Homo sapiens: one gene and its partner. The protein of the gene in region 1 binds, or shares a complex with, the protein of each later gene. Links are inferred from orthologs where the notes say so. Each region holds a gene or a part of one and is shown on either strand. Other genes may lie near its edges. The genes, in order: GLMP and MFSD1.

The links.
Region 2: the proteins of GLMP (region 1) and MFSD1 are in contact, whole or in part, in a cryo-EM structure (PDB 8R8Q), measured with the Mus musculus proteins. The link is inferred for Homo sapiens from one-to-one orthologs. Residues at the interface, in NP_064387.1 of Mus musculus: Glu250, Asn252, Ser253, Ile254, Asp255, Asp256, Glu257, Pro260, Ala261, Phe263, Gln264, Arg292, Phe364, Leu367, Val368, Ile371, Met372, Ala375, Ala378, Leu381, Met382, Gly385, Phe389; in NP_080089.1 of Mus musculus: Val288, Glu292, Lys293, Arg295, Phe349, Phe351, Leu411, Asp412, Lys414, Gly415, Tyr416, Leu417, Leu418, Val421, Ile424, Ser428, Leu432, Val435, Leu439.

The regions. Positions count from the first base shown.
Region 1 is NC_000001.11:156,292,680-156,299,571, forward strand, and holds GLMP (glycosylated lysosomal membrane protein isoform 1 precursor), read right to left. Parts: upstream 3,001-6,892; 5' UTR 2,967-3,000; coding exon 2,847-2,966; exon of another isoform or gene 2,618-2,846; intron 2,338-2,617; coding exon 2,080-2,337; exon of another isoform or gene 1,997-2,079; intron 1,887-1,996; coding exon 1,686-1,886; intron 1,558-1,685; coding exon 1,339-1,557; intron 1,032-1,338; exon of another isoform or gene 939-1,031; intron 898-938; coding exon 641-897; intron 531-640; coding exon 365-530; coding exon of another isoform or gene 333-364; 3' UTR 9-332; downstream 1-8. Other genes in the region: VHLL (von Hippel-Lindau-like protein), read right to left, coding at 6,091-6,510. UniProt on the Homo sapiens protein: Required to protect lysosomal transporter MFSD1 from lysosomal proteolysis and for MFSD1 lysosomal localization.
Region 2 is NC_000003.12:158,805,054-158,812,578, reverse strand, and holds part of MFSD1 (lysosomal dipeptide transporter MFSD1), read right to left. Parts: intron 7,218-7,525; coding exon 7,105-7,217; intron 5,540-7,104; coding exon 5,497-5,539; intron 5,184-5,496; coding exon 5,116-5,183; intron 3,401-5,115; coding exon 3,292-3,400; intron 1-3,291. UniProt on the Homo sapiens protein: Lysosomal dipeptide uniporter that selectively exports lysine, arginine or histidine-containing dipeptides with a net positive charge from the lysosome lumen into the cytosol.

The DNA of each region.
Region 1 (6,892 bases):
GACTGGAGCCCTGTGAAAAAAAATAAATCTATTTTCTTGCCTTCCAGGGCAGCCAACCAGTCAGAATGCCTCTCATTTAGGCCTGCAAGTCCCATCCAAGGGAAATGTGTGGAGATGCAAGAAGGCAACACCAAGGGGACCTTATCAATAGCCCTGTCCCCTGCCCGCCTCCAAAGTCCCCCAACAAAGTATGAAGGAAGCCCCACCTGGGGGTCTCCAGGAAGTCGAGGCTGGCCTCTGAGGTTCCACAGAAAAGCAAGATGGGGGAGTGAAGGGGCCGGCTGGAACTTGATGCTCCAACCTCCAGAGTTTCGAGGCACAGCAAGACAGGTTCAGTAATGTCCTTCCCTCCAGAGAGCGGGCCTTAATTTATGGACTGGTACTCTGAGTACTTCTTGTGGTGCAGCAGCAGAACCAAGCCGCCCCCTAGCAGCATGAGCCCTGGGGCACCCAGGGCCACTGCCATGATGCCCAGGACTAGTGGGGACAAGCCGTCCACTGGAGGGAAGCCCACACCCAGGAGCATCGACCTAGAGCAAGCAGAGAGAGAGAGGTAAGCGGGCTTAGGAGGAAAGGCTGGGAGGCTCAGCCTTTGTCCACTTCAACTCCCCAAGTCCCCGGCCCAAACCCTGGCTCTCACCAGCTGAGGTAGTGTTGGTCCCAATAGCCAGGGCCTGTGGAAGCCCCGAACGTCAGATTGAAGGCACAGAAGTTATTCTGGGACCCAAAGAAGGCTCGGACAATGGGTGACTGGGGAAGAGAGTATGCTAAGGCAGGATGAAGAGGGGAAGCTTGGCAGGGCAGGGCTGATTCTCGGCCCCCCGGCTTCTGGGAGTAAGCCACTGGTCGCCACTGTGCAAAGCCTGATGGGAGGGAGCCCCACAGTAGCTGGTCCAACTGGGAAGAAAGGCAAACAAGGGAGGGTAAAGAGGACCAACCTGTGCCCGACCCTCTTTTCCTTGCCACTCCCAGCCTTATTCTGTGACTAGCAGCAGGAGTCCTGAGTCCTAGGCAGGGCCTCAATCCCTCCTCTGTAAAAATGGGGAGTTCGACTGGGTGAGGACTGAGTTGTTTTCCAAACCTCCAAGTCTGGACTCAGCCCTCCTCTTGGCCCCTAGCCCCCTTGCAGATCTCCATCTGCCAGAGTGTAAGTCATATTGCACTTTCTGTCTGTCTCCACTGAGGGCAGAGACTGGGTCAGATTCATTAGCACAGTGCCTAGCTCTTAAACGACCCAAAGAAAGTGTTGCTAAATGGCAAATGGTTGAATGAGTTTTAGGTCCCAATGGTGTCCCACCTACATTCCTCACCCATCTGCCTCTCTCCAGGAAGCCTGACCTGGAAGACGGCCGGTGCATATTCATCGTCGATGGAGTGCTGCTCCTGCATTGAGGGGCAGTCAGGGCCCTGGCCCAATGTGGCTACCTCCAGCCCAAACAGGGAACGGTTTCCCCGGGGAGAGGCTCCAATCAGGGCCACCTCTAGCTGACAGGTGTCTGCTGTGTGCAGGAGGCGAGGGGGTTGGGCTGGTCGGCTGGACCTGGAAAAGGCCTGGACCTAGGAAGGAAGAAGCATGGGAGGTGTGGGAAATAGCTGGATGCCTGTGCTTAAGGGCCACCTCCATCATTAAATCCCACCCTCACAAATCAGCCTTTTTGAGCTCTTTCCGATTTCTCACGCCTTACCCTGAAGGCCAGGCTGCCATTGGCAAAAGTCCTGGTAGGGTCGTTCATGGGGTGGCCTTGAAATGTGGCACTCAGGGTGGCAGGATCCAATGAATCAGTGATGTTGTTCCAAGAGAAATCGGCCAAGGAGTATGGAGGATATGGTCTTCCCAAAGGCTTTGCTGCCGTATCGGACACGTTGGTGCTGTCAAACTCAAGCAGCTGGAGGGTGGGGGTAGGGTGGAACTGGGCTTGCCTCAGTTTTTCTCCCGAGACCACACCTCCCACTCACCCCCTACCAAGGCTTTCATATCTGAGTCTATTTCACCCACCCCCAGTCTTTAGTTCCACCCTCTAATTGGGATGAACTCTCTCCTCTGCACTCTTCTCCTTGGTTCTCTCCCAACCTCCTCACCCTGGTAAAAACAAGGGCAGAAGAAAACTGAATGCTGTCCTTAGGGAGCACCATCAGGCCCCCATCGGGCTCAGGGGATAGCAGGAGGCTCCAGTTGACGCTCAGGGTGCTGTGGGGGGTGTTGGTGGCCACCATTACCACTGCCAGAGGCCCCAGGCTGCTCCACACATAGTGCAGTGTGGAATTGGTGCCCACTGCCCGTATATGAAGCAGGTTCTGCAGGGGGCCCAGCCAGTTAGGGATGACCTCCAGAGACACCTGGAACATGGAGTAGTGGAGGGTTGAGGGAACAGGACCAAGGAGAGACACAGGCAAAAGAGAAGCTTGAGGGGAGGGGGGCTTGGAAAGTGCTGGACAAAGGATGGGATTTTGGGGACTAGACAAGAGGAATGTGTGCGGGAGCTGAGGGAACCCTGGGGTAAGGGGCAGTGGGGACAGGATGAAAAGGGGTAGGGTAGAGGGTACAGCCAGGACTCCCCTGACCCTGGTGGGCGGGTCAGGGCACAGGGCTGCGAAGAAGAAAACATTCAACACTTGCCTGGACCTGGGTCACCCAGGGCTGAGTCGGGGTCCAGACATCACCCTCACATTTGCCCTACTCCACAATCCCGTCCCATGACCCATGACCATCTCCCACACCCTCCAGGTTGAAGAACCCTCCTCTTGGCAGCCACCCTCCACCCCTAGCCCCTGGATGCCCGGTTCCAGCCACCCTGCAAGGGTAGCGTTTCCTGAAACTTCTATCGCTGTAGCCCCAGGGCCCTCACCTGGCGGGTCTTCTCCCCCAGCAGGCCAAATGGGGCTGCAAACAGAAGTAGAGTCCAAAGGAGCAGGGGGCTGGGGGCACAGTGCCCCCAACCCCAGGTGCACTCCACAGAGCCGCGCATACGGCCGCAATTCAGCCGACGGAAGAGGTGCCAGAGGGTCACATGACTCGCGTTCAGCTGATCCCTTTCAAGGGCGGAGCCGCCAAACTATTTGCTTTTTAAAAAAATTTCCTTTCGTCAGCACCATTTAATGTATTAAAGAACAGCTTTGTATTCTATCTTAAAACAGGAAACGTCAGTCTCTTACAAGTAATACAATTTAATATGGTCACAAGATTTTAAGTGAAAAAAAAAACATTCATGCTACAAGTTTTCAGTTTTCCTTGGACAATGCCAAAAACACAGTATTCAAACGGCATGTTTTAAGAGGAACGTGAAATCTCATTTTGACACAAAGACAGGTTAAAGAAAATAAACCCAACAGGGAACTACTCCAGTACATTGCCTTAAGTTCCCAACCCTGTCCCATTGTGGAACTCATACACCTTCTTTCTACTCCAGCACATGAAACTCTGTGGTTCTTCTTCCCTGTGGAACAATGTGGTTCTTCTTCCCTGCCTAACATTTCAACAAAAATTGTAAATATTTAGAGATGTGTCACTAAATGACAACAACATACTTCCAAAAAAGCCAACTTATTTGTTAAATGTTGAAAGAAAAGGCCGGGCACGGTGGCTCACACCTGTAATCCCAGCACTTTGGGAGGCTGAGGCAGGTGGATCACAAGGTCAGGAGTTCAAGACCAGCCTGGCCAAGATGGTGAAAGCCCGTCTCTACTAAAAATACAAAAAATTCACTGGGCACGGTGGCAGGGCCCTGTAATCCCGGTGGCAGGCGCCTGTAACCCCAGCTACTCGGGAGGCTGAGGCAGGAGAATCACTTGAATCCGGGTAGTAGAGGTTGCAGTGAGCCAAGATTGTGCCACTGCACTCCAGCCTGGGCGACAAGAGCGAGACTCCGTCTCAAAAAAAAAAAAAAAAAAAAAAAAAAAAAAATATATATATATATATATATATATATATAGAGAGAGAGAGAGAGAGAGAGAGAGAGAGAGAGAAAGAAGGGGCTAGGCCGGGCACAGTGGCTTACGCCTGTAATCCCAACACTCTGAGAGGCCTTGGTGAGTGGATCACTTAAGGTCAGGAGTTAGAGACCAGCCTGACCAACATGGTGAAACCCCGTCTCTACTAAAAATACAAAAATTAGCCAGGTATGGTGGCAGGCGCCTGTAATCCTAGCTATTTGGGAGGCTGAGGCAGGAGAATCGCTTGAACCTAAGAGGCAGAGGTTGCAGTGAGCCGAGATTGCGACATTGCACTCCAGCCTGAGCAACAAGGGGCAAAACTCTATCTCAAAAAAAAAGAAAGAAAGAACGGGCTAAAATTTGGTGAAATTTAAAAGGGTTGTAGAAAACTTTGGAGTGTTTGTTTTCTTCACTTCACTCTGATTTTATTTTATTTATTTATTTTGAGACAGCATCCTGCTCTGTCACCAAGGCTGGAGTGCAGTGGCACAATCATGGCTCACTGCAGCCTCAAACTCTCGAGCTCAAGTGATCCTCCTGCCTTAGCCTCCCAAGTAGCTGGGACTTCATGCACATGCCACCATGCCTGGCTAATTTAAAAAAATTTTTTTTTGTAGCGACAGGGTCACACTATGTTGCCCAGGCTGGTCTTGAACTCCTGTGCTCAACTGATCCTCTCACATGGGCCTCCCAAAGTACTGGGATTATAGGGGTGAGCCACCACACTAGCCATCACTCTGATTTTAGAACACAGGGCTTGTGCACAAAGGTTAGGATAAGGAACTAAAGATGCCAAAAAATACCCCAAACATTAATTGCAAAAGAAAGACTAATGTTTATGAAGAGCTTATAACATGGAAAAATATTTGTTATAAAATTAAATGAAAAAGTAGGATACAAAACTATATAAACAGTAAGATCTCAACTATGTAAAAAAGGATAAAGGAAATAGCTCAAAATGCTAATAGCGGTTGTATTTAAGTAGTGTATCTATAGTGATTTTTTTTTTCCTTTTTCCTTTTCTGTCTCTTCCAAATTTTTCTCTACTGGGGGGATTTTTATTGTTGTTGTTGTTGTTTTTTGTTGTTGTTGTTTGTTGTTGTTTTGAGACGGAGTCTCACCTGTCGCCCAGGCTGGAATGCAATGGCGAGATCTCGACCCACTGCAACCTCTGCCTCCCGGGTTCAAGTGATTCTCCTGCCTCAGCTTCCCGAGTAGCTGGGATTACAGGCACACGCCACCATGCCCAGCTAATTTTTTTTTTTAAATGGAGTCTCGCTCTGTCACCCAGGCTGGAGTGCAGTGGTGTGATCATGGCTCACTGCGACCTCCACCTCCCGGGTGGAAGCGATTCTCCCACCTCAGCCTCCCACGTATCTGGGACTACAGGTGTGCGCCACCATGCCTGGCTAATTTTTATATTTTTAGTAGGGACAGGGTTTCACCATGTTGCCCAGACTGCTATTGAACTCCTGAACACACACACACAAAATTAGCTGGGCATGGCGGCGCCTGTAATCCCAGCTACTCGGGAGGCTGAAGCAGGAGAATCGCTTGAACCTGGGAGGTGGAGGTTGCAGTGAGCCAAGATTGCACCATTGCACTCCAGCCTGGGCAACAAGAGCGAAACTCTGTCTCAAAAAAAAAAAAAATTCTTCAGTCTCTTCTTCCATCCATTAATTTTCTTTTCTCTCTCTCTCTTTTTATTTATTTATTTTTGAGATGGAGTCTTGATCTGTCGCCCAGGCTGGAGTACAGTGGTGCAATCTCAGCTCACTGCAACCTCCACCTCCCGGGTTCAAGCAATTCTCCTGCTTCAGCCTGCTGAGTAGCTGGGATTACAGACATGTGCCACCACGCCCAGCTAATTTTTGTATTTTTTAAGTGGAGACGGGTTTCACTATGTTGGCCAGGCTGGTCTCGAACTCCCGACCTCAAGTGATCTGCCTGCTGCGGCCTCCCAAAGTGCTGGGATTACAGGCGTCAGCCACCGTGCCCAGCCATCCACAGATATTCACTGTGCTCCTGCGTCAGCCGCTCCAGGTCTTTCAATCACATTTGGATGATCTTCCAGATCGTCATAGAGTGATCTGACGATGTCCAGTCTCCTGTAATTCTTGGGCTTGACTAGGCTTCCGACAACCTGGAGGCATTGCTCTTTCAGGGTATACACTGCAGTGTGATGTTGGCAAAAACAGGCTGTCCATTAACATTGGAAGATGGCACAAACAATTCAGTTTGGTTAACCAGAAGCTTATCATGTGTCCTTGCATCTCTGAAGAGCCAAGGGTGGCTTCGGAAGTTGTGGATGCGGAAGTCCCTGCCGGGCAGCAGCGTCAGGTAGGGCAGCAGCTTGCCATAGTAGTTGAGCCACACAGGCAGCACGATTCGTGGGCTGTGATTGCAGATGATGATCCGGGAGAGCTCGCGTGAGTTCACAGAGCGCAGCACAGGCCATGCTGCTCTGGCTGCCATCTCCTCCTCGGCGCCCAACTCTTCCTGGCAGTACTCTTCTGGGCCTGCCTCCTGGGTGCCCGCCTGGGCCTCTAAACCCACCCCGTTCCCCGCTCTCCAGGGCATTACCTCCGAAGCCTTGACAACTTGGGCCTGCCCATACCAGTTCTTAAAGAGACTACTTCCGTTCACCCGGATTTCGGCAAGAGTTACAATGGAATCAGAAAGGCTGGGAGTATATAACCCCCTACCTGGGTGGTAAGCAAGACATCCTAGATCAGACAGACTTACTCCCAGCCTCTCTTACCTAGCCCGTCCCACTGAAGAGCTACCTATAGTGGGAGAGATCCAAATGGGACCCCAATAATACAACTGTGATAGGAAGATCCAGAGAGGAATTTGAGGGTATTCCATGAGATAGCACACCTGAGGGTTCTTTATGTCAATCTAATATTTATTGGACACTTCATGGCCAGGCGCAGTGGTTCACACCTGTAATCCCAACACT
Region 2 (7,525 bases), on another chromosome or scaffold:
AGTGGGCATGGTGGGAAGTGGTCAGAGCATAGATATATTTGCATATAAGTTGCCCTGAGTTTCTAGAAGGGAATCTCAGGGGCTTCTTAGAGGCAGTTTAGGGATTATGAGAGTGGTAGGGAGATCTTGAGGAGGTGAAATGAGCCAGATCGCAGGCAGCCACCTCAGTTTCAGCCAACGCTGCTCAACTTTTATCTGATTTATGTATTTAGCGTCCATGTAAGATGATTTTATGATCAAAATGGCCAAGAGCTATTCCATTATAGGGCTGCTGGGGGTGACATAGATTCCGTCTTTTTTGCGCTTCTCTTGTTCCCTGTGCAGCCTCCAGAATGACCACAGAGGTCCTGGGTTTACCTCTCCATGATTTTTCTATTGCCTGAGTTTTTGAGTTTGATTGTGTTTAGACACTTGAACTATTAGCATATACCATATACCTTCAGTGCACTTCTCATTTTTCTTAGTATTCATGTCTTAGCTCGGGACTGGAGATCCAGCACCCTTTCAATTTTCCTTCACTATTGTTACTTGAAAACTCATTATTTCAACAAACATTTATTGAGTACTTGCTAAGCCAGGTCATGTTATTTTATTTAATAGATATTTTAAATAGTTAAAAGAGATTTTAAATAGTTATTTAATAGGTATTTTGGAATGAAAGGATTATTAAGGCAACATCCTATCTTTGAGGAATTTATATTTTTGATGGTATTAGAGAAAGCTTCCAGTAGGTCTCTGTTTACCTTGTTGCTTATTTGAGTAATGCCATTAGCTAGTATTTTATAAGAAACAGCCATGTGAAATTTGCTACTGTATTTGCTGTGAGAACATTGTTGAAGGCATGTACACTTCTCAGTCTTCAGCAGTGTCTGACCTATCAATAGCATTTCACGCAGTTGACATCCTCTCCACCTTGATTTCTTTTCTTGGGTTTCAGGATACCACAGCCTATAGTTTCCCCCTTGCCTTTCTGCCCACCCCAATGGAGCCCTTTTGTTGGTTCCATCTCGATCTTCTCAACCTGCAAATGTGGGAAGTGCCCCAGGGCTTGGTCAATTGACATCATCTCTTTTCTTTCAACATCCATAGTCTTGGTGATCTTACCAAGTTTTGCCATTTTAAGTAGCATTTTCCTTGCTCCTGAACTTACATCACTTGCCCAGATTTTTCCCCTGAATTCTACACCTGTATATGCAACTGCCTACTCAACATTTCCACTTGGATGAATGGCAGGCATGTCTAACCTAACACGACCAAAACCCAGTTGCCTTTAACTAAGGATGTGAAAAGTACAGCAGGAGCTGGTTTAGGGGATGGTGGGCAGAGTATCAAGAGCTAGGTTACAGCGCTCACAGTTGCTTAAGCAAAAACTGTGCTGTCATCCTGAGCGCCTCCGTTGTTTTTCCCCCACACTCTACATATTTTCCGTTAGCAATCCTAGTAGCTCTGTCATCAAAAGAAAATACATACACAGAGAAAGAGAGAAACTTAGGGCTCCTCAGAATGCAGCTTAATGAATTATAGCTAACTTAAAATGACACAGAAAAGAACCTGATGTCCTGGTAACCAGAATGAAGTCAGTTGAGTCTTGCTCAACTGATTTCACTTCCTTCTTTAAAAAGTTGTTAGACAACTAGATTCACAAACTGCCACAGACATATCTGGACTTGCACAAGACTCGTAATGAAGGCTTTGGGAATATCCTTATAGGCAAAATTTAGAAAATATGGAAAACCACACTATTTACCAAAGAATTACAAATTCAAATATTTAGCTGTTTCCTATCAAAGTGATAAAGTAATTTTCTAAAAGTAATAATAGCCTGTACTATCAATGCTACAATAAAAGGGATCCTCTCATATCCCACAGGTGGGGATGTAAACGTCTCTGGAATGATAATGCGGAAATATCTCTCAATAGTCCTCAGATGACCTAACAAATACCCTGACTTAATAATTCCATTCCTAGCCACTTAGCCTATGGAGACTAAAAGAGATGCACAGAACTTTCATAGCGAGAGTGTCAGACTATAGCACTATTTATAATAGTGAAAAATCAGAAAGAACTTACATGTATAAAAATACAGAAATACTCATATGATGAAGTATTATATGAAAATATTTTTATATTGAGTTTCTTATTCTCTGAGACTATGTTGTATTTTCACGACACTTATTAAAAGTCAAAGCTTCTGCTCGCCTTGGCAGCACATATACTAAAAATCAAAGCTTGAAAGCTTGATTTTTAGTGGCAAAAAAAATTTTTTTTTAATACTCTATTCATGGGAATTCTTGAGAGAAAAAACCTAATGGGATTTGGGAATGCCAACACACCTTATAGTTTGCATTAATAAAAACATAGTGTTGTCTCTATAAAAAATACACAAAATTAGCTGCACATGGTGGTACACATCTGTAGTCTCACTATTCTATAGGCTGAGGTGGGAAAATCACTTAAACCTGGGAGGTCGAGGCTACCATGAGCCAAGATTGCACTGCTGGACTCCAGCTTGGGCAACAAAGTGAGACCCTGTCTCAAACAAACAAACAAACGAAACCCATAATGTTGTTCCCGCTAGGTAGCCTCTAAGACCAAACCTGAAACACCATGATCATTTCTAAGTTCCAAATGCCAACAGGAGTACTGGCTAACTGAGATAAGTTCAGAGAGGCATAAGCACCATGGTAAGGGAGCTGAGATCCATGTCATATGGCTCAGGCAACCACAGGAAATGAGCACACATAACCAAGAACTTAAGAGCTGTCTACAAAGGAGCAAAGTGCTGATGCACAGCAGAGGAAGTAAACTTTATCTACAGAGAGCAAAAGTCAGAGCCATCAGTAAAAGCTACTTGTAAATGGAGGTTTCATCGCTATGTGAGGTTACGCTTCATAAAGTTCATTAAGGTAGGTGGGCTGCTTCATCACAGAGCAAGCTTGCAATCCCTGGAAATATTGCAAACTGAACCTGGACAGCCGTATGTGGAGAGGTTCTAGCAGGGATGCCAAAAATGGGTAAGAAATTAGACAACAAAACTTACAGGATCTCTCCCTATGCTCAGATTCTTTGAACTAATGAATGTACACAACCATTTTAGACTGTTTACTAGATGAAATAAGGTTAGAAATGCTTTACTCAAGGTAAATGCCATGCTGTGTTCTAGAGAAATCCATAAAAGTTAATATCTAATTTACCATACACAAATACATTTCATCCTGTGATTTTTAAGAGAACTATAAGATTTAATCTTTTGCTTCCATTTGGCTTCATCAGGCTTTTCATTATACTTACAATTCTAGCCATGCTAAGTTGAAGTCCAAACACCAGGTTTAATTCTTTGCCTTTAAACCAGCTCACAGCATATGTATTCTGGGCAACTGCTAAGGACTCGCCACCAATCCTAAAAATAGAAAAAAAAAAAAAAACCAGAAGTCACAACTTTAAAGAAATACTACAGTTAGCAATGCAGCAGGTTTAAAATGTTGGCACTTCTCCTATCAAGAGATGGGGCCTCTGTCCCCTCCCCTTGAATCCAGGTGGGCTTGTGACTACTTCAACCAATAGAATATGGTGGAAATGAGACAGTGTGATCCCAAGGCTCAGTTATAAAAGGTGACATCACCTTTTCACTCCGACACTCGCACTTGGAGCCCTGAACCACTACCCCCATGCTATGAGACAGCAAACCACAAAGAGAGGCCACATGTAAGTGCCCCAGTCAGCAGTCCCAGTCTTTGAGGCATCCCAGTCCAGGTGCCAAACATGTGAGTCAATAAGCTTTCAGATGATCCCAGCCCCCACCCTTCCATGAATCTTACCAGCTGAGGCCCCAGACACTAGAGGCAAAGACAAGCTGTCCTTGCTACACTTTGTCCGAATTCCTGCCCATAAAGTCCATGAGCATAATGAAATGGTAGTTTTATACCGCTAAGTGTGGGAGTCACATGATATACTGCAATAATAACCATGATAGGCAACAAAAGGAGTCGTCTTGGTTACTACATTACCATCGATATTATATAAAATGCAGATGTGGGAAAAGTGGTCCATGCTTTGTGAAAACATAAAAACTCACATTTTTCAGAACAATATGCAAAGCTCTCCATCAATCAATCCCCACATTCACTTTCCATATTCAACACTCTCCTACTTCCTGGGTTTTAATTTTCCTTCAGTAAGTTTCAATATTTACGATTCTCCTCCAAGGGCCTTCAGTTAGGAGCTTCCTTCCTCCATATCCTTACACCGAGGCCACCTCAGTATTAAGGACTAAGAAACAGTCTTAAGACAAATAAGAAATAGTCTTATTTCTTGTGACTCTGTCCTAGCCCAAAAATATTTTCCCTCTCTTCTAATAATCCAAATCCTGTACTTCTGTCAAGGCCTACTTCATCTGTAAGGCCATTTCTGACCACATTTCTGTTTCTGAATCCCTGTCATAACTTTACATACATTCTTCTTCCTTCTCTCTCACTGACGGTTACTTTTTGGGGTATGTCACCTATGTCTACATGCTCCTGACACCTGTGCAAAGCTTGAATAAGTTATGCTTTTAAAACTGAGTCAGTTCTGTCATCTGGGTCCCTCAGGGCAGCAAGCCCAAGGCTGGTCTCAGAATAGGCTTACTGAACAGACAATGCAATTCAGGTAGAACAACTGGTCTATAAGAATTCACACAGAATAGTCAGCTTACACATATTGTGCTCATTCAAGCAAAGCTCTTGGACAGGGTTGAAAGGACCCTCGCATCACTTGCTAAGAAAGAGTGAAATGTCCATCAGTCACCAACCTAGAAATCGATGGTCTATACTTTTCTAAATGTGGTTCAAATCATAGTCTTTAATACAACAGAACAGGCAAAATGCCTGGGAAAAATATCATTTCCAGAGAACTATTTAATACTCAAACCCCACACAGAGTTGATTAGGACCATTCAAAATTGTTGCTTATTTTAAAGGAAAACTAAGACAACTAAGAAATACTCTTATGCATATGAAGCTAGGTTTCAAAGATTTGAAGTAATTCCCCAGAAGAGACAAGGTTTTTTAAAGATCTTTCATAGATGAACACTAAAACAATAATACATTAGGATAAATTAAATTATGCATAACTTACCCAAATACAAATCTTCCAAATTCCATCAGCCAAAAAGCATTAAATATTCCACCCAGGGCAAAAACAACCTATAATGTAGAAGTTCATGTCAAATTAATGAAAAAGTAAATTCAAAGTATTAAAGAGAAGCAAAAGGAACATGATAAATCTCAACTTCTACAATAGTTTTAATATTTCTCCTTAATAAATCTGTGAAGTTAAAATATTAATGTTCATTTATTTCAAGGCTTAAAATAGACTATGGATTATATCACATGGGCATTTATGGGTTCTGCTTAATTAAGCTAGGCATTAATTAAACACAGCTTTGCCAATGGAATTAATTAGATAAGAATTTAGAAGTCACTGTCAATAATCAATGAATGTTTTGGCCTTCCTTACCTGTCCAATGCAAACAAAGCAGCTAAAAATGATTGTGCCCCATCTGTTTGGGAAAGAAAGAATGAGAATGAGAAAAAGAAAAAGAAAAAAAAAATCTTAATTTCTGTTTACATTAGTATTAGTAATCACAAAGTCCTTTAGTAATAATTCACTTTGGTTTTCTTTGCCTCCCTCTGTATTCCCTCCAAAGAAAGAAAAATAAAGGGCTCATCTCCCTCTGAAGCCAGCAACTCTCAGGCTAAATATGAATCTACAGAAGTCTAGACTTCTAAGGGGATTCCGGAGGCTTTAGCAATGGCATATATTAGTTTAAATCATTATCATCTCTTAAATAAAACTAATCAACTAATCTTCAAGAAGTTCCCAGGGTCAAAACTACTTAAAAATGTAAATTCTTCATAAAATTTCTATTAAGAGTTTAGGATTGATTCCAAGGAATTTTACAGTAAGTAATTTTAAGTGGTTATAATTCTTGATAACTAAAACCAATTTTTAAAAGGACAAACACCAACCATGTTATACAAATCTAACATCCTACAATCTGGACATCAGATTAATGTTGCCCTAGAATAATAAAATGCCAGTATTAGAAGAGTCCTTAAAGGCCATCAGGGTAAACCATACTTCTTAAACTTAAATCTCTCTCAAGATCCTTGTGAAATGACCATGCCATGTTCTACTGAATGTTCTCTAGCAATGTTCTCTAGCACTGGAAAACTTACTATGGTTCCAAGACAATTCTTGTCATCTCCTGCCAATCTGACCAAGCAAACTCCTCATATTAAAAGGAATCTGTTCCCCAGAAGTTTCAAGCTAATTCTCTCTCTTGAGATCAAAAAAAATAAATTTAATTCTTCCTTCATATTTTAACTCTTCAAAAATTTTAAAGGTTAGTCCCCAGGTGTAAACTCTTAAAGTTTCTTTAATCTTTATCCACCAGACATGGTTTGAAGACCTTTCATCATCTTGGTCTTTGCCTTCTGAAAATATTCCCAGTCTATATTCCTCTTCAGTTCCACTAACAACATACACACAATAATAAGGATGAACAGTGGCAAACCTTATAGTGTTATTCCCTGCTCAGCCTCTAACAGAAGTGGTCACAAAATGTTTTACACCCCAAGAAAAGCAGAAATAGAAAATCTCACCGGGGCTGGAGGAAGCACATACTACCTATGTGCCAAATACTGTACATCCATCTCTCACTTAATCCTCATAACCACCTTGCAAGGTAGGAATCATCTATATTTTGGCAATGAGAGAACTGAAGCTCAGGAAGCTGCAAACAGCTCAGAACAGCCAGGAAGATGAGAAAGTGGCAACGATAAGATTCAGAACCTGGTTTACCTGATCCCAAGGGTGAGTATAATTTTCCTATGGATAACTGAGTTACCTTATACCATCAGCATTTACTAGTCCTGACCTTAACTGAAATACCACGTTTCAAAAACCAACTCCAGAGATATAAAAATCATTTTTTTAAAAAACTCAAGCAAATTATTAGTTAATACAGAAGTTTATTCAGCTCTTTCTAGAAATACCTTAATCTAGCTCTGTATTTTTCTAACAATCAGGTAAGATTTACCCATAGTTTCTTTTCAAGCTTACCGTATTCCAAATACTCGGTCTATCAAAAAGCCACCAAAGAAACACAAAACTACATTGGGCCAAGAATACCAGGCATACAGCAGCATGAATTTCGTGGTATTCACTTGCATATCCTATATGAAAAGAAAATAAAACTATTTTTTTCCAAACAGTTAAGTTTAGCAACTAACAAATCAAAATATGACAATCTAAAGTGGAAAGTAGTTACATTCTTCTTTCTGTAAAGGGCAAGTTTTTTTTAACCATTTATAAGTCTCACTAACTTCCTTGAGAATCTCATGAAAGCTATGGCCCCTGGCCCAGGAAAATGGTCACACCTGGGAACCCTGGGAACTTCTTGAGTTCACATGCCATTTCAGGGGCTTCCTGGATTCCAGGATCAGACACCCTGCTACAGGGACCACTTCTGTCTGACTATAAC